Regions from separate parts of the Homo sapiens genome. Here region 1 is linked to region 2. A link means that fine-mapping ties the variant in region 2 to the expression of a gene that starts in the linked region. Tissue or cell type: thyroid. Region 2 holds a variant in brackets; the other region holds the start of a gene. All regions are shown on one strand. Distances are from middle to middle.

Region 1 (8,104 bases), 190 kb before region 2:
TCCGCCCCCACCCCCTAAGAAATAAACAGGAAAGAAGATCCTACTTTCCCATTTGATCCTTCTCTCTTATTCCTAACCATGTTTTCGATTTCTTTTTCCTTTTAAAAGCATTTAAAAGAATGTGTGTACATATTCATTTTGATGGCAGATGGAGACCTAGGAAGAGTCTACAGCCACAGATCTTTCTTCTCATCGCACCACAGTCTAAGGTGTCCGAGGACACTCCCCTGGAGGAAAAGTTGGGGGTAGGGAAGGGAGCCACAACACAAGAATGTAACTTTAGCTTTTCACCTTGGCAGTGACCCTTAACTTCCCTCAGCTCTTGAGCCCACGTCCTGAAAGGCTGGCTAGGCTGATTAAAACTGCTGATTCAGATACACTAACAGTTGGAAGATCTTCATGCCTCCTGTATTTTCATGGGGAGAAGGAGTATGAGAAGAACATAGAGGGAATTTAGGAGAAGAATAAATGAATTAAATAGTGTATGTATATATACATATATATATACACACACATATATAGCTTAAATTAGAATTTAAATTTAAGCTATATATATAGCTTTTAATAGATATATATAGCTTAATATATCTATACATAGCTTAAATCAAAATGTTCAGCTCAATCAAAATCTAATAATTAATTCCAGGTCCATCGTAGATGGTAATCAAAGAGAAGGAGAAATCTACATTCAAAAAGAAAAAAGAATACTTCATAACTAGAAGTAAAAACCACTAGAATATGAAAATTCTCCTTAAAAACACCACACATTGAAAGGGATATTCAACATACTACACCATTAGATAAAATAACCCCATTCCTTTAAAGAATCTAAAGCAGAATTTGAGAAAAAATTCTTCCAGTTACAAAACTGAGTTTTGATGTGAATATGTCACTCCCTCAACGGGGTGGTTTTCCTCCAGTGATTCACAGCAAACATACTCTTCCTTAAGGCATGTGCTTTTCTCAAAGATTTCTGGAGAGGAAAGACTCCATGTGCTTCTGTTTACAAGAAAAAAAAATCTCTCTTCACAGCTTATGTATTAAAGAGGTCCTTTGCCCCGCAAAAAGACTAACCACATTTCAAAGTCAAAGTTCACAAAGTAATAGATCTACATTGCCAGCAGATATTGAAAGATTTCTGATGGTCTGTATACTTAATGTACATGTGGAACTACCATTCCAATAGAGTTCTGCTTACTCTCTGCACTTAGTTTTGCTTACTCTCTGCACTTATTCAGGAGTAGTTCTGATATGCTTCTAAATACATATGGAATGTTATACACAAATACATTATTAGAACAACTGCAAAAAGGGTATAATACCTATAGCAACAGGCAGTCTCAGTGAGCAGTTTTCTTCAGCTTAAACCCCAAATAGACTTTATTTCTACAAGCACTGTGTAGAATGGATCCACTTGTATGCCTGTCTTCCTAAACAATCATCTATTATTTTCCTACCTTTCTCCCCACTCCCCATCAGAGTGGTGATTTGCTTTTTTTTAAAAAAATGGGAATTATGGGGTCACAGCAAGTGAAAGAAGAAAACAAAAGTTGTGTACATCAATGTACAAGGTATGGGGGGGTGGGGGTGACCAGCTGGAAACTGAGCCCTTGGTCCCTGATGCCTCGGTCCCCCAAAGTCCTCACTTGGACCTCGCCTTGTGATAAATCCTATTCTCCTTTGCAATTACTTGTTTTCAATTCGGAAGGCTCAGGCTATCCCTGAGTGCTAAGTAGGAGTAAAACAGCACAGCTCTGCTTTGTCCAGTTGAGATCCGTTTCCTTTTTCTATTCTCCCAAAGCACGTATCCTGCTGCCGCTGCCTACTCTGCCTTCCTGCCTGCCCTCACTCCTCCTCCTCCTGGGGTTGTGTTTTTAGTTTTGTGACTCTTTAGAAATCATGAACTTTAGCTATCCCAAAGAATACTCTGAAGAACACAGGATGTGAAAGGCATCTCCTTGGATAAAAACCACAGAACCCAATGCCCGATCACAGGAGTGCTGCTGAGTTAACCTCTGATGTTAACTCAGGCCTCTGCCCTAGTCCTGGGGGAAACGGAACCAGAGAAGCTGGAAATGGAAAAAAATTAAGAAAATATATTGGTACAAATCCAATTCTAGAGCTGAGACCAAACTCTTCCTTGTTATTTGTTCAAACCTATGGGAGAAAAATAATAAAACCTTTTTCTCCTCCCTCCTCTTCGTCTGTGACAAATCCATAAATATAAAAAGATGAGACAGACAAAAGAGAGACAACTGGCGATCATTTCTGAGAAACGTTTATATGCTAACTTGGATTAAATATCCACAAAATCCAAGTTCGGCAAACTCTCTTCAGGCTTTAAAATTCCCAGCTCTACTGTCACACAGGCTGTTCTCAGAGCTTCAGGCCTGGAAAGCATGGCGGAAAGACAGGGCAGCAGAACTCCACCTGCCAGTCACCCGTTGACTCACCATGAAACAGGTGAGTCCGCCTCACTTCCTCAGCTCCACAGGATCCAGACAAAGCAGTCCTGGGCTCCTGAAAGCCTTTCTCCGAAGCTAGGGGTACCGTCTTTAGGGAGTTGGCAGGTCAGTGTAGGTACCAGTTTTGCCACAGTTCTACTTACAGGAGGGCTCTGGACCTTCCCACTCCTAATTCCAGCATGCCCCCTTCCGGGAGAAGGTGGGCTGTGTTCCTTTGCACATTTGCCCCAGTTAAGGAGAAACACCAAACACATATCCACTGAATTCCAAGAGCCATCAAAAGAGCTCTTGAGCTGGGCAGAACCGCAAGCTAGAAATTCCCCAGGAAGAGAGAGACTAAGAGACTCAACTCAGGCCTGCCAAGCTCAGGAGGCCTGGATGGAAACGGATGGGTGGTGGGGGATCAGATTTTTTGTATTCCTTTAAACCACGAAGACAGCTGAGGGCAGCCTGGGGAACAGTGTTAAAGGATCTAGGAGGTTCTGCAAAGGAGTGAATTCTGGGCGCATCAGATTCTTTTCCCGCTATCAGCTCACAAGCCTTTCCGGACCCTTTTACTATCATTGCTAAATGGAACTTATTTCACCAGTTACAAGAGTCTGGAGGCCACGGAGCAAAGCTAGAAAGGCCAGGGTTCTGAGAGTTGGATACTTGTCCTCACTCAAATTTTCCTGGGCCCTGGGCAGGGCCGGGCCGGCCGAGAAGCACAGCCAGCTCGACTCAGCCGAGTGTTGGCCTTGGCTCCTTCCCTACACCTACCTACCCATTCCAACCCCCAAATGGCAAGGACCTCTAAAGCCTGCAGCCAGGAAAATCCGACCCCACCGTAGTGAGTGTGCGCACGTGGGTTTTAATTTTGTCCTGTCTCAACTCCGTTGTCTCCCTGCTCAATCTGACACGTTCCGAACCCTTCAACCTGGGAAGGCACCTGGCGATACTGACGCACAGTCCCGTCGTTTGGCTGCCCGGAGGCGCCTTCCCTGCGGGCGCGAGTGCCACTCGCGCTGGGTCCAGACTCAGCCGGCTTCTCCCGGGAGAGGAAGCCCCGGCCTGGCGGAGAGTAGGAAGGAAAGCCCCGACAGGCCCACGTCCCAAAACTTTGCCTCCAGTCCTCCCAAGTGGAGCTGCAGCTGGCACTCCGAAGTTGCCCCCGCGCCCGGCCAAACTCCCGCACCTCAGACGCTCTTACCTGGCTTGGCGAGCTGCGCCTGCAGAGCCCCGGGCTGCGGCTCGGCAGTCCAACGCAGCGCGGCGGCCGCGGCCAACTCGGCAGCAGGGCGCGGCGGCTGCGGCTGCGACGGCTGAGAGGCTGGCGGCGGCTGCGGGGCGGCGACGGCGTCCCCCGGCGGCGGGGGCCCTGGCAGAGCGCGCAGCGAGTCGGGGATGAGGCTCTCCAAGCTCTCGTTGGCCTGCTGCCGGCGCAGCGCCACCTGCGCAGCCATGACCCGCTGCCGCTCGATGATGAGGATGCACTTCTCGCAGGTGCAGTCCTTGAAGCGGCAGTAACGCTTGTGGCCCTTGAGCCAGGACAGGACGCCATGGTTGCGGCAGCGCGCGCACTTGGGCGTGCGCTGCAGGGGCGCCCGTGGCGGCTGCGACACCGGGCCGCCCATGTACAGGTAGGGGGAGCCGTAGCCGTTCATGCCCCGGGCTCCCGAATGAGTTGGCAGCCTGGCTGCGGGAGAGGGCCAGGGAGCGCTGGACGGCGGGGCTGCGAGGCCCGCTCAGGGGCGGCCTCCGGGCGACGCGGCCCTTGGTCCCGCAGCCCCGGTGGTCGTGTGTGCTCCGGGGCGGCCGGAGGTGCCGCAGTCGTCTCTCCAGCTCCCTTCGCGCTCACAGCTCGGCCTCCCAGCTCACGCCCAGCCAACGCCGACGCGGGCCTCTGCCTTGGGCGCGCAGCCGGGTCGGCACGTCCTCCTTCGCGGAGGCGCTGCGGCGGCTGCAAGGAGCCGGCGACAGCTCTGATTAAGGTCTGAGCCAGCTCTTCTGCAGCTCCCTCGTGAGCCGGCCGGACCCAACACCTCCGCCGCCCTCCCCCAACCCCTCCTCCTTCCCACCGCCACCCCCGCCCCTGGGGTCCCTGTCTCCTTGCACTCCCCGCCCCACGCCTTCCTCCTCCTTTGCGCCCCTCGGGTGCCTGCACTTCACCTTCCTTGCCACCTGCAGCCAGGCCACTCTCGCGGGGGCGCTCGCGGCCCCCTCCTCCAAGCCCTCTCCGCTACCCCAGCCCGCGGCTGGAGACTGCGGCGCTCCAGAACGCGGCGGTGCTCGCGGGGCGGAGAAGGGGAGGACCAGCGGGAGTGAGGGTGGGGGTGCCTGTAAGCGAGTGAGGTGGCCGCTCCGCTTCTCTCTCTTCTCCTCCCTCCAGTCCAGATCTGGCCGCGTTTTTCCGAGCCCAAGGCCGCTTTTATCCCGACATTTGGCCGCAGAAGCTCAGCTCCGGGAGAACTCGAACCTACGGGAGTGTTGCGGTTGCACCCCGGACCTGGGTGGAGTTTAGGATAGGGGAGTGAAGTGATGTTGGTTTAGGAAAGTTAGGCTCTTTTCGTAATTTCCTTTTAGAACGTATTTTTTTCTCTTTTGTTGCTTTAGAAGAAAATGGTTTTGGAGATCTGCCGGCCCAAGGATGACAAGCCATTTTGCAGGCGAATTTTACTTTTCTACCCTCCTGTCCATGTTTTAATATAAAACAGTATCCTGAAAGGTCAGGGACGTACGTGCTCCTGTAAAGGATTTGTTAAGCGCCGGGTATAAACTTTCAAGGGGCAGACACAGAAGCCACATTGGCGCCCCCAAAGTTACCGATATCCTCTTCCCTCGCTCCCAGCAGCTACTGGAAGCAAACGGAGGTCTTGCGCCAGCCACTCAGTTCAAATCCCCACGGATTCTGTGATTCAGTTATGGATATGGGATGGGGCCACTTTTTCACCTCCTTAACCCATAGACCCCAGTCATAGATGTCTTGGGGGAGAGGGTCCTTCACAAGATGACAGCAGAAAACTTTGTTTAGATTATTTGCGTGTTCCCATTCTCCCAGGAGTAGCGGGCTTGGCCTAGTGCAGACTATCGCTATATATGCACAAAGAAGGCCCTCCACCCTCGCACCTCCCCACTGCCCATCAGCAAACAAGCAAAAACCAAAAAACAAACAAACAAACAAAACAAGTGGATACACTGCAGGGCAGCACAATAGCTCTATGCGAAGCGGGGCAGTTCCAGAGCCTTCGGTGGATGCGCTTCTGAGAGCGTGCACCAAGCCCATCTCCTGGTGGGGAATCAAATGCTAGATGAGAGCGTAGGCAAGTCCGCTGCAATGTCCGACCCCTCATGGGCACAGAGGCCCTTGTCCCCTCGGGGAGGCCGCTTTTCTCTGTACTGCCCTGGAAGTAAGCAAGCAACCTGAAAACTTTCCTCTGGTGTTTGCCATGAATTCAAGGGAAGCACCTCCAGGCGTTCTAGCAGCCAACCCTCTGCCCAGAAGGCTGATTTGCGGAGAGGAGGGTTGAAAACCGAACCCCAGTTGTGTGTTTCCCTTGAAGCCCTTAGCTGTTCCCGTTTCATACGCGTCCGGGAGGTGGGGATCGCGGGACACTGACCTGGTAGAGTGTGGACAAGAAGCTCTAGCATTCGAGTGCTAACCCTGGGAGGCCATCCTCCAAAGCCGCGTGGGGTAGGGACCCCTCGGTCTTGCCCCTTCCCCCACCACTTTAATCCTTCCTCTAGTCTCAACCTTCTCTAGGAAAACAAGCCCTAAAATACAACTGGAAGGAATTTTGTAAGCTCTGGGGACGGGAGGCAGAGGTCGCCCCCAGCCCTGTAGGCCCGAGGCTAGGAAATGGGGAGCTGGACGCGAGTCATTTAACGTGCTGCGATATAGAGGGCCTCAAATGACACCTTAACTGAAAACTATTGCGCTGAAACCTCCGGATCTCTTGGAAACGTGGGGACCAACGACTTTTTTCAAAACCAAATTTCTTCCGATTTTCTTCAAACAGTGAAACGAGGAAGTATAAAGAACTTGAGTATGAATAAATTTTTAAAAGGAAAGCAGAAGAGCTCTGCACCAGGTTTGTGGGGGCACTTTCACTACCAAGGCGACCCCTTTTCCCCCGTCGGTCACCTAGCCACCCTATCTCGTTGCCACTCAAACAGTCTGGCATTTGGTCCCGGGGGCCCGTTTCACTCCGGTGCACATCGGGGGCTGAGATCTAAATACTCATTTGATATAGTGCAGTAATCCTTTTCTCATATTTGATGGGAATGTTTTCCATATCCCAGTATTTGACAACATCTCCCTATAGGGACAGGTTTGTATTTATGTTGGTAAAATGTCCCCTGCCTCAAAGTCTATTGTAACCCAACACCTGACAACCCCGAGTCCCATTTCTGTTTGCAGAAAGGGTTTATTCAAGCACATAATGGGATCCCAGCAGAAAGCCTTTCAGAACAAGGGGCTGTGGTAAACTTCACCACATGAACTCCGTTTCCAGGGCTATTAAGCTTTTAATTGGAAAATAGCAGAGGAAATTTCAAGGTGACTATAACGTGTTAGCAGTTAGTGCAGAGAAGAAAAGCCGAAGCGGGAATGAATGTAGAAAGCATATGGTCCAAATCACATTTAGGAGGAGCGGCCTGCTTCTACTAAGTCCCAGTAGCTTACACACTTATGGGAAAAATCATCAAAGAAATGGGAAAGGGAAGGGGGAGGATTACAAGTAAATGTAACCTCACTAGACTAGATCCATTGGTGCTCTCCTGTGGATGGTGTGTTCTCAAACCGCAATTAACTGAGTAGAATTCTGGCAGATAATCGTGGAAGAGGAAAAAACAATGTGCGTATGTGGGTCTTTCTCGGCACACACAATCGCTGGGTGTGTGTACATGTAAAAGCTCAGGATGCAGGTGCCCTTGCTGAGAAAGTGAGGACTCCAGATCTGGGAGTCCTGGTATGTGCTCCTCATCCCAACTAATACTCAATCAAAACGGCAGTTTCCGATTGTCCCGGATGTATAACACATCAGCAAATTCTCTGCTGGATTCTCATGGAAGGGGAGGTCAGGGTTCCTATTTCACTGTTTTCATCGCGACCACGATGATGTCAGTGCAGGCAGACGCTGGAAGCCTGAGCGTGAGGAACCCCTGTGAAAACAGAAAAACTTGTCCCCTCTTCCTGTGCGTGAACTACTCAGCTCTCACCTGGTCAGCTTCTCGACCTCGCTCTTCGGCCCGCTTCAAATTGAAAGGAGTTGGGGGAATGTCCAGCCAGGCAGTGGGGCATCCAGCAATCAATTTCTTTAGATGGCAATAATGTCTTGGTTCTCCCTCAGTTGGCTGGGGACAGACTCATGCAAACCCCCCATGAGATCCCCGAAGCCGCCCTCCGGGGCGAGGGGTGGAAAGCAGAGGCCGCTTGGGGTCGGGGAGACGACTGAACCCCGGGGTCACCGGCCCGGGGATACCGCTGAACAGGGGAAGGTCCTGGACCGCTGTTCCCACATAATTTTGGTAGGGGAAGAGACGGGTCGCAGCCTGAGGCCTGCTCCAGATCCCCACGTGCCGAGGCCTTTGGGGACAAACAGGGAGAGCAGAACGGCCTGTGACCTCGCTGGCCCTAAGCCGACCGGGCGGGAGAAGCCAGG
Region 2 (8,104 bases):
GAGTTCAAGACTAGCCTGGCCAATGTGGTGAGACCCCTGTCTACTAAAAATACAAAAACTAGCTGGGCGTGGAGGTGTGCACCTGTAGTCCCAGCTACTTGGGAGGCTGAGGCAGGAGAATAGCTTGAAACCGAACCTGGGAGGCAGAGGTTGCAGTGAGCCAAGATCGCGCCGTTGCACTCCAGCCTGGGCGACGGAGTGAGACTCCGTCTCAAAAAATAAATGTAAAAATGTGAACATTGATGTAGTATTTCCCCTACATATTTTAGTTTTACATTTCCTAAAACTACAAAAAGCAAAATAAGCAGAAAAGAAGCACACTTGGTTCAGACCTAAATGCTCTGATACCGTAGTTTCCCACCATACGCAGCAGAGCATGTGGGTTAAGAACATGGGCACAGAGGTAGTTTGGTTCACCTATGGGGGCCTCTGTAGTTCATTTAACATCTCAGAGCCTTTAGTGTCCTCTTTTTTAAAATGAGGATGGTGAGAGCCTCTTAAGATTTTTGTGGTAATATAATGAGCTACTGCGTGTAAAATTAGGTACGGCCTGGCCCAGAGTAAGTGCTCAACTATCATTAGCTGGGAGCAGACCAGGGGCTAAGGTAAGTGTATCCTCAGGAGAGTAAGCTAATCAGCCACTTTGGAGCATGCCCCCAGCTCTCACACAGGAAGATTTAGTCACTGTCCTGGGTTGACAATTGTCATATCACCCCCCACCCCCAAATTCATGTTCACCTGCAACCTCAGAATGTGATCTCATTTGGAAATAGGATCTTTGTAGATGTAATTAGTCAATTTAAAGTGAGGTCAGGCTGGGCACAGTGGCTCATGCCTATAATCCCAGCACTTTGGGAGGCTGAGGCGGGCAGATTGCTTGAGCCTAGGAGTTGGAGACCAGCCTGGGCAACATGGCAAAACTCCTCCCTACCAAAAATACAAAAATTATCCTGATGTGGTGGCGTGCCCCTGTAGACTCAGCTATTCAAGGGGCTGAGGTGGGAGGATTGCTTGAGCCCTGGAGGTCAAGGCTGCAGTGAGCCATGACCCACTGCACTCTAGCCTGGGTGACAGAGATCCTGTCCAAAAAAGCCAAAAAAAACAAATTGATGTCATACTGGATTAGAGGGGGCTAATTCAATTCCTGGTATCCTTATATGAAGAGGGAGAATGTGGACACAGACACACAGGGGACAACACCATGTGAAGACCCAGACACAGAGGGAAGAGGACCGGATGAAGACAGGTAGAGTTTGCAGTGATGTATCTACACACCAAGGAATGCCAGGGTTGCTAGCCACCACTGGAAGTGAGTGGAGACAAGGGCTCTCTTATATTCTTCAAAGAGAGCTTAGTGCTGCCAGCACCTTGATTTTGGACTTCCAGCCTCCAGAGCTGTGAGACAATTTATATTGTTTTAAGTCACCCAGTTTGTAGTAATTTTGTTACAGTAGTCCTCGCAAACCAATAGTCATTTAGCAGAGACCACACTGCATTGAGTGGGCCTTATGCCCTGCTTTCAGCTAAAGCCTCTTGCTTTCTTTAGTGGGAAATTTTAGCATGAAGGAGATTAAGAGAACAAGACTTTAGGGTTTTGACAAATGGGCTATAGCTGATACTTCATTAGATTGTCAGGCATGTGAACAGATTGAGGAGGATCTTAACATGCATTAATTACTGAACTCAGAAATGTTGCTGCAGCAGCAGCAGCACTGACAGGCTTTCCCTGTGACTTTTTTTTTTTTTTTTTTTTTTTTTTTTTTTTTTTTTTTTTTTTTTTTTTTTGGCCAAGGTCTCACTCTGTTGCCGAGGCTGAAGTGCAGTGGCACCATCACGGCTCACTGCAGTCTCAACCAGGGCTCAGGCAATCGTTCCACTTCAGCCATCCAAATAGCTGGGACTACAGGCATGTGCCACCATGCCTGGCTAATTTTAAAATTTTTTGTAGAGATGAAGTTATACTATGTTGCCCAGGCTGGTGTCAAACTCCTGGAATCAAGCAATCCTCCTGTCTTGGCCTCCCAAGGAGCTGGGATTACAGGTGTAAGCCACCACACCCAGTCTCTGTGACTTTTTTTTTGTTGGAGTCTCCCTCTGTTGCTAGGCTGGAGTGCAGTGGCATGATCTTGGCTCATTGCAACCTCCACCTCCCAGGTTCAAGTGATTCTCATGCCTCAGCCTCCTGAGTAGCTGGGACTCCAGGTGTGTGCCACCGTGCCCAGCTAATTTTCGTAGTTCTAGTGGAGATGAGGTTTCACCATGTTGGCCAGAATGGTCTCAGTCTCCTGACCTCATGATCTGCCCACCTTGGCCTCCCAAAGTGTTGGGATTACAGGTATGAGCCACTGTGCCCGGCCCCCTGTGACTTTTAAGAGTCCGTGTAGCACTGTGCAGTTAGGGTATTTTACAGTGCAAAGTGCTCATCAACAGAAAACAAGTGAGAAACCAGCACCACTCAGTGTGGTGCAGAGGTGCCACCCACACCAGCCTTCCCTCATTAGACCCTGTGCCCTGGCCTGCAGGGTATGTGCAGTGGCCCAAGAAGCAGCCGCACCCTACCATAGCATCCTAGCTGGACTCCAGCCCCGCGCAGCATCTTGTTCATTTATTTGCTTACTACACATCTATATCTCTCCTAAACTAAGCAAAATCAATTGAAGCGACAACAAAAATCTTTTCCTCCATCTTGCAGCCCTAGTTACTGCCATTTAGCCAACCACCTTTCCCCATTCAAGTGTCCATTTCCTTATTCAGCATAGATAGATGGAGCTCATTTATGTGCTGGGCGCTGGACAAGCTGGGAATAACAGCAGATACTTAGCACTCTGTTGGGCACTGTGCTGAAGGATTTGCATATATTATCCCTTCCAATATTCACAACCCCACTAAATAATATAAAATTTTCTGTTTTACAGATGAAGAAACAGGCACAGTGATGGCAGGTGACTTGTTCAAAGAGCTAGACCAGCTCAAGGCCTACGTTCTTTACCACTGAGGCCTGTGTGTCTCTTAGAGTAAGATACAATCCCACCCTCCAAGGAGCCCCTCTGGAAACTTCCCAGCACCTTTTCCTAAAAGCTTTGATCCTGGCCAGAAGACCTCAGCTTTCGTCTTTTCGTCTATAAAATATGAACTCTAATACTCTCAGCTTCTTAGAACTGTTGAGTAAGTAACGTGATGCTTAAGAGTGATAAGCCGAGCGCTCCAAGGTGTCTGTTGAATGGAAGTGACAACAATTTATATTAATTGATTCCAAATGTGTATTCATTTATTGTCATGGAATCAGGTGTGTTCAGCTCAGTTTTGTGGGTTCAAGGTCATGACACCCCTTTCTGTCCTGCTCTCTGCTACATACTGGGCAAAAGGGGCCTCAAAAGGGTGGCCTCCCCTGCTACAGAAGCTTGTGATAGGATAAGACCACATAGATGAGAAGAGAGCTAAGATTTTCTCAATCCTTTTCATCTTTCTTCGACCAAATGCATCCTGCAAACGAACTGACTATATACAGATATCTTCGCAAGCTCTTGAAGACCCCAAACAGTACCTTTTGGAGGGTGGCTATTATGGGCTGAATTGTGTGCTCCCCACCAAAATTCCTATGTTGAAGTCCTAACCTTGCAGGACCTTAGAATGTGACTATATTTGGAGATAGGGTCTTTAAAGAAGTACTTCCATTAACATGAGATAAATAGAGTGGGCCCTGATCCGGTATGACTGGTGGCCCTCTAAGAAGAGGAAATTTGGCGGGGCACGGTGGCTCACGCCTGTAATCCCAGACCTTTGGGAGGCCAAGGTGGGCGGATCACCTGAGGAGTTCGTGACCAGCCTGGCCAACATGGTGAAACCCTGTCTCTACTAAAAATACAAAAATTAGCCAGGCGTGATGGTGGGTGCCTGTAATCCTAGCTACTTGGGCAGCTGAGGCAGGAGAATTGCTTGAACCCAGGAGGAGGAGGTTGCAGTGAGCTGAAATGAGGCCATTGCACTCCACACTGGGTGACGAGTGAAACTCTGTCTCAAAAAAAAAAAAAGAAATTTGGATACAAACATACATGGAAAGATGTGAATATACCTGAGAAAGATGGCCATGTACAACCTAAATAGGCTTGAACAGATCCTTTTTTTGTGTGGTCTTGGAAGGAACCGACCCTCCAGAAACCTTGCTCTGAGACCCATCCTGCAGAACTGTGAGGCATACACTGTTGTGAGGCTGCCCAGTCTGTGGCGCTTTGTTCCTGCAGCCCTAGAAACCGAATACAGTGGCTTGCACATGAACAGGAACCTCTTTAGGCTCCAGAAGGTTGGGGGTGGTGGGGAGATTTTGTGGTTTAATCAGTCTTCAGGGATATCCACACAAAAAGGCCTGAACTACAGTGTGAGACAATCAGTGAAGATGCTAAGATTTATAAAACTTTTAGCTCCCAAAGGGTATTGTGGAATCAACTTCATTGAAATTCCCTAAAAACTGAGCAGACTCTCCCTTATTATGGATTAAATCACTGTAGAAAGAGTTTTGGAGTAGCTGTTAGGAAGATGCTTGATTTTTAGTCCTTTCTGCGCTAGTATTAGGATGGGCTAGGTTATGCTGTAGAAACCTACAAGCTAAAAATTTCAGTGGCTTAAAATGACAAAGACATTTTTGCTTTTTTGTTTTTGAGACAGCTTTGCTCTGTTGCTCAGGCTGGAGAGAAGTGGCATGATCTCAGCTCACTGCAACGTCTGCTTCTGAGGTTCAAGTGATCCTCCCCTCTCAGCCT[T/C]CCAAATAGCTGGGACTCTAGGTGCATACCCGGTTAATGTTTGTTTTGTTTTGTTTTCGTAGAGACAGGTTTTACTTTGTTGCTCAAGCTAGTCTTGAACTTCTGAGCTCAAACAATCCAACCCCCTCAGCCTCCCGCCGTGCCGGGATTGTAGGGTGAGCCACTGAGCCTGGCCTGTGGGGTTTTTGCTCATCCAACTTGTCCATCAGTGCACTGTTGGCTGGAGGCTCTGCTTTGCATCCTTCCTGCAGGCCCCAGGCTAAAGGAGCAGCCACTCTGTAGAACGTTCCCAGTCATTGTAAAGGGAAAGGGAGCTCTCGAGGGTCTCACACTGACAATTACGTACTCAGGCTCAGAAGTGACATATGTCACTTCTGCTCATGATTCATTGGTCAGAACTAGTCATTCAGTCTCTACCAACTACAAGGGGAACAGGAAGTGCAGCCCTACCCTGTCCCCAGAATGAGAGAGAACTAGAATACTTAGTGAACATCACTGATAAGTCTAACAGTCGACCCATCTGGTAACCAAATATTCAATTCAGCCCTCCTTCCCATGCAATATACCCATCCCCCTCCCATTTCCTAGGGAGCCCCAGCGTCCCATCCAGTTTCAGTATTCAGCTCAAAGTTTAGGATGTCATGATGGTGTCTACTTTAGTGAATGAGGCACAGTCTCACTGATGTGGAGTACGGCTCCTCTTGATTTTGAAACCAGCGAACTAGGAAAATGAGCTATTCGTGTTCTCTCTCTAAAAATGCAATCGTTGAATAAGGCTGGGATAACAGCATTAAATGCTCCCAGTGGAAATGGGAGAAGTGGGAGATATACAGCATTTGCTGGTCCATAGCAATCCTGAAGTAGACTAAAGGTGGGCGGATGTTCCGAGACCTCCACTCTTGCAGAGACGGTATGTTTCTTGAATCGGCAGCCCTGGGTCAGCTCCCACGAGTTGTTCCCTGTCTGTGTTCTCCATGGCCTTTGGTTCTGCTTTGTTTTTTCTTTACTTTCTTGGGTATCATCTGAAGAGGGCATAAATGAGATGATCTGTTATATATTATGATATATATGACATATTTGAAAGAATACACACAGGTTTTCATCCACATTTCCTGGCTCATAACTCCCATAGCCCTTGTTATAATGTTAGGGCCCTTTAGGCCTTAGAAAACAGAATCTCTCTTTCTCTTGCCCTCCATTCACTTGCTCGTTTTCTTTCCAAGGCAGGAATGTCCCCCAGCCTTTCGGTCTTGAAGCTGACTATAAAGAAATTCTCTGATCTATCTTGTCTGATTATAGGCCATAAGATGTAAAGAAAGGGTCCTGCCCCATACCCAGGAGGAAGGAATGCTGCACAGAGAGGCCAGGAAGAATCTGAACAGACAGGCCTTGCTGGGTTTCCCCACTCAGTCTATTAGTATTTATTAGATCATACCTTTTTTGTCCAGCCAGTTCCACATGGCTATCCATCTTTCAGTCATGCCTATCAAACGAAGTCTCTGTAAAAGGCCCAAGGGGGTGGATTCTCCATACCTCTCTAAAAGTATGGAGAACTTCTGGATAGCTGAATACGTGGAGGTTCCTGGAATGCAGTGTCCTTAGGGAGGGCATGGAATCTCCATACCCCTTCCATACATCTCTATGTATCTTTTTATCTGTATCCTTTGTAATATTCTTTTTTTTTTTTTTTTTTGAGATGGCATCTTGCTGTGTCACCCAGGCTGGAGTACAGTGGTGTGATCTCAGCTCACTGCAACCTCCACCTCCCGGGCTCAAGTGGTTCTCCTGCCTCAGCCTCCTGAGTAGCTGGGGTTACAGGTGTGCACTGCTATGCCTGGCTAATGTTTTTGTATTTTTAGTAGAGACGGGGTTTCACCATGTTGGCCAGGTTGGTCTCGAACTCCTGACCTCAGGTGATCCACCCGCCTTGGCCTCCCAAAGTGCTGGGATTACAGGCGTGAGCCACTGCACCTGGCCTGTAATATTCTTTCTAATAAACCAGTAAACCTAAGTGTTTCCCTGAGTTCTGTAAGCCATCCTGGCAAATCAGACTCAAAGAGGAGGTTGTGGGATCCCCAATTTACAGCTAGTTGGTCAGAAGCATGTAACACAACCTTAGGCTTTCAACTGGCATCAGAATTGGGGACAGTCTTGTGGGACTGAGCCCTCAGCATGTGGTGTCTGACACTGTCTCCAGGTAGAGAGTGTTGGAGTTGAACTGGATTGGAGGATACCCAGATGATGTCACTGCATGTTGATTTACTTGCTTGGCACGTAGGGAAAAACCCCTACACATCTGGCCACAGAAGCCCTCAGTGTTGATTATTGTGGAATGAGCATAGAGGAAAGACAGTTTGTGATTTGACCTCACAACCTCCTTGGGGGATGAACAGCATTCTCTGACTGGTTGCTGCTCCACAGTGATGGTGGGCGGCGGGGAGGGGAGGAATAAGTGAACTAAGGACTGGGGAGGGGAGAAGGAAAGGGGAAAATGGGGAGAAGCTGGCCAACAGGTACCAGGTTTCAATTAGATAGAAGTAAATTCTGGTGTTCTTTTAGTCAGGTGACGGTGATTAATGGTAAGGTACTGAATATTATAAAACAGCTAAAATAGAGGCTTTTGGATGTTCTCGCTGCAAAGAAATAAGTGCCTGAGGTGACACATTAAAAACCCTGATTGGATCGTTATACAGTATATAATATCAAAACATCAAATTGTATCGCATAAATATCTATAATTACAAGATGTCATTACAAGGATCATTTAAAATCTCCAGCAGTCACAAACATTTTTAGGCTAGGCTAGTGCTTCCTTTAAAAACACGGTTAACTTCTTGACTATTTTAGTCTAGTCGGTGCTGAGGCTAAAGCAGCTCCATCTTTGATGCTAATCTGCCACGTTGACTTCTTCAACGCTAGTCCCGGGAATGCCTGTAAGATTTCTACTTTCATGTACCACAAATCCTGCCATTAGATTGTTTACCTTGATGTTAATGTAAACACATACTTACCATAAATACTGCCGTGAGGCAAATTCCCTCTAATATATAAGCCCTGGGTCTGGGATGGGGGTAACAGAGAGGGGACACCCCATCTCTTCGCCTGCAGCCTGAGGCATGGCTTGTGTTTTTAAGGGCCTATTACATTTTTGTTTTGTTTTTTGTTTTCTTCCCCGCTGAGAAACTGGATTTGTTGCCTCCTCCTCTGGCCCCTCAGCTTCCTCAGACTTTGAGGGTAGGTTTACATAGACCTGCTTAGCACAGAACATTTTCAGGTGCTTTTTTTTTAAATTGATATCTTGTAATTATAGATATTTATGAAATACAGTTTGACGTTTTGATATTATA

Evidence for each region. PIP is the estimated chance that this variant, and not a neighbour inherited with it, causes the effect.
Region 1: it holds the start of DMRT3, and the variant in region 2 is the best candidate, but not a certain one, in a credible set for the expression of DMRT3 in thyroid (GTEx, PIP 0.84).

What each region holds. Positions count from the first base shown.
Region 1 is chr9:973,006-981,109 of GRCh38, reverse strand. DMRT3 (doublesex and mab-3 related transcription factor 3) reads right to left here and starts at 4,455. Exons shown (of 2, transcript NM_021240.4): 1 at 3,655-4,455. The coding sequence starts at 4,108. RefSeq lists enhancers at 4,288-4,787, 4,788-5,289, 5,822-7,675.
Region 2 is chr9:783,287-791,390 of GRCh38, reverse strand. No RefSeq gene overlaps it. Among named protein-coding and RNA genes, the nearest start is that of DMRT1, 54 kb to the left of the region's middle. The variant T/C (reference allele first, on the strand shown) is at 4,758.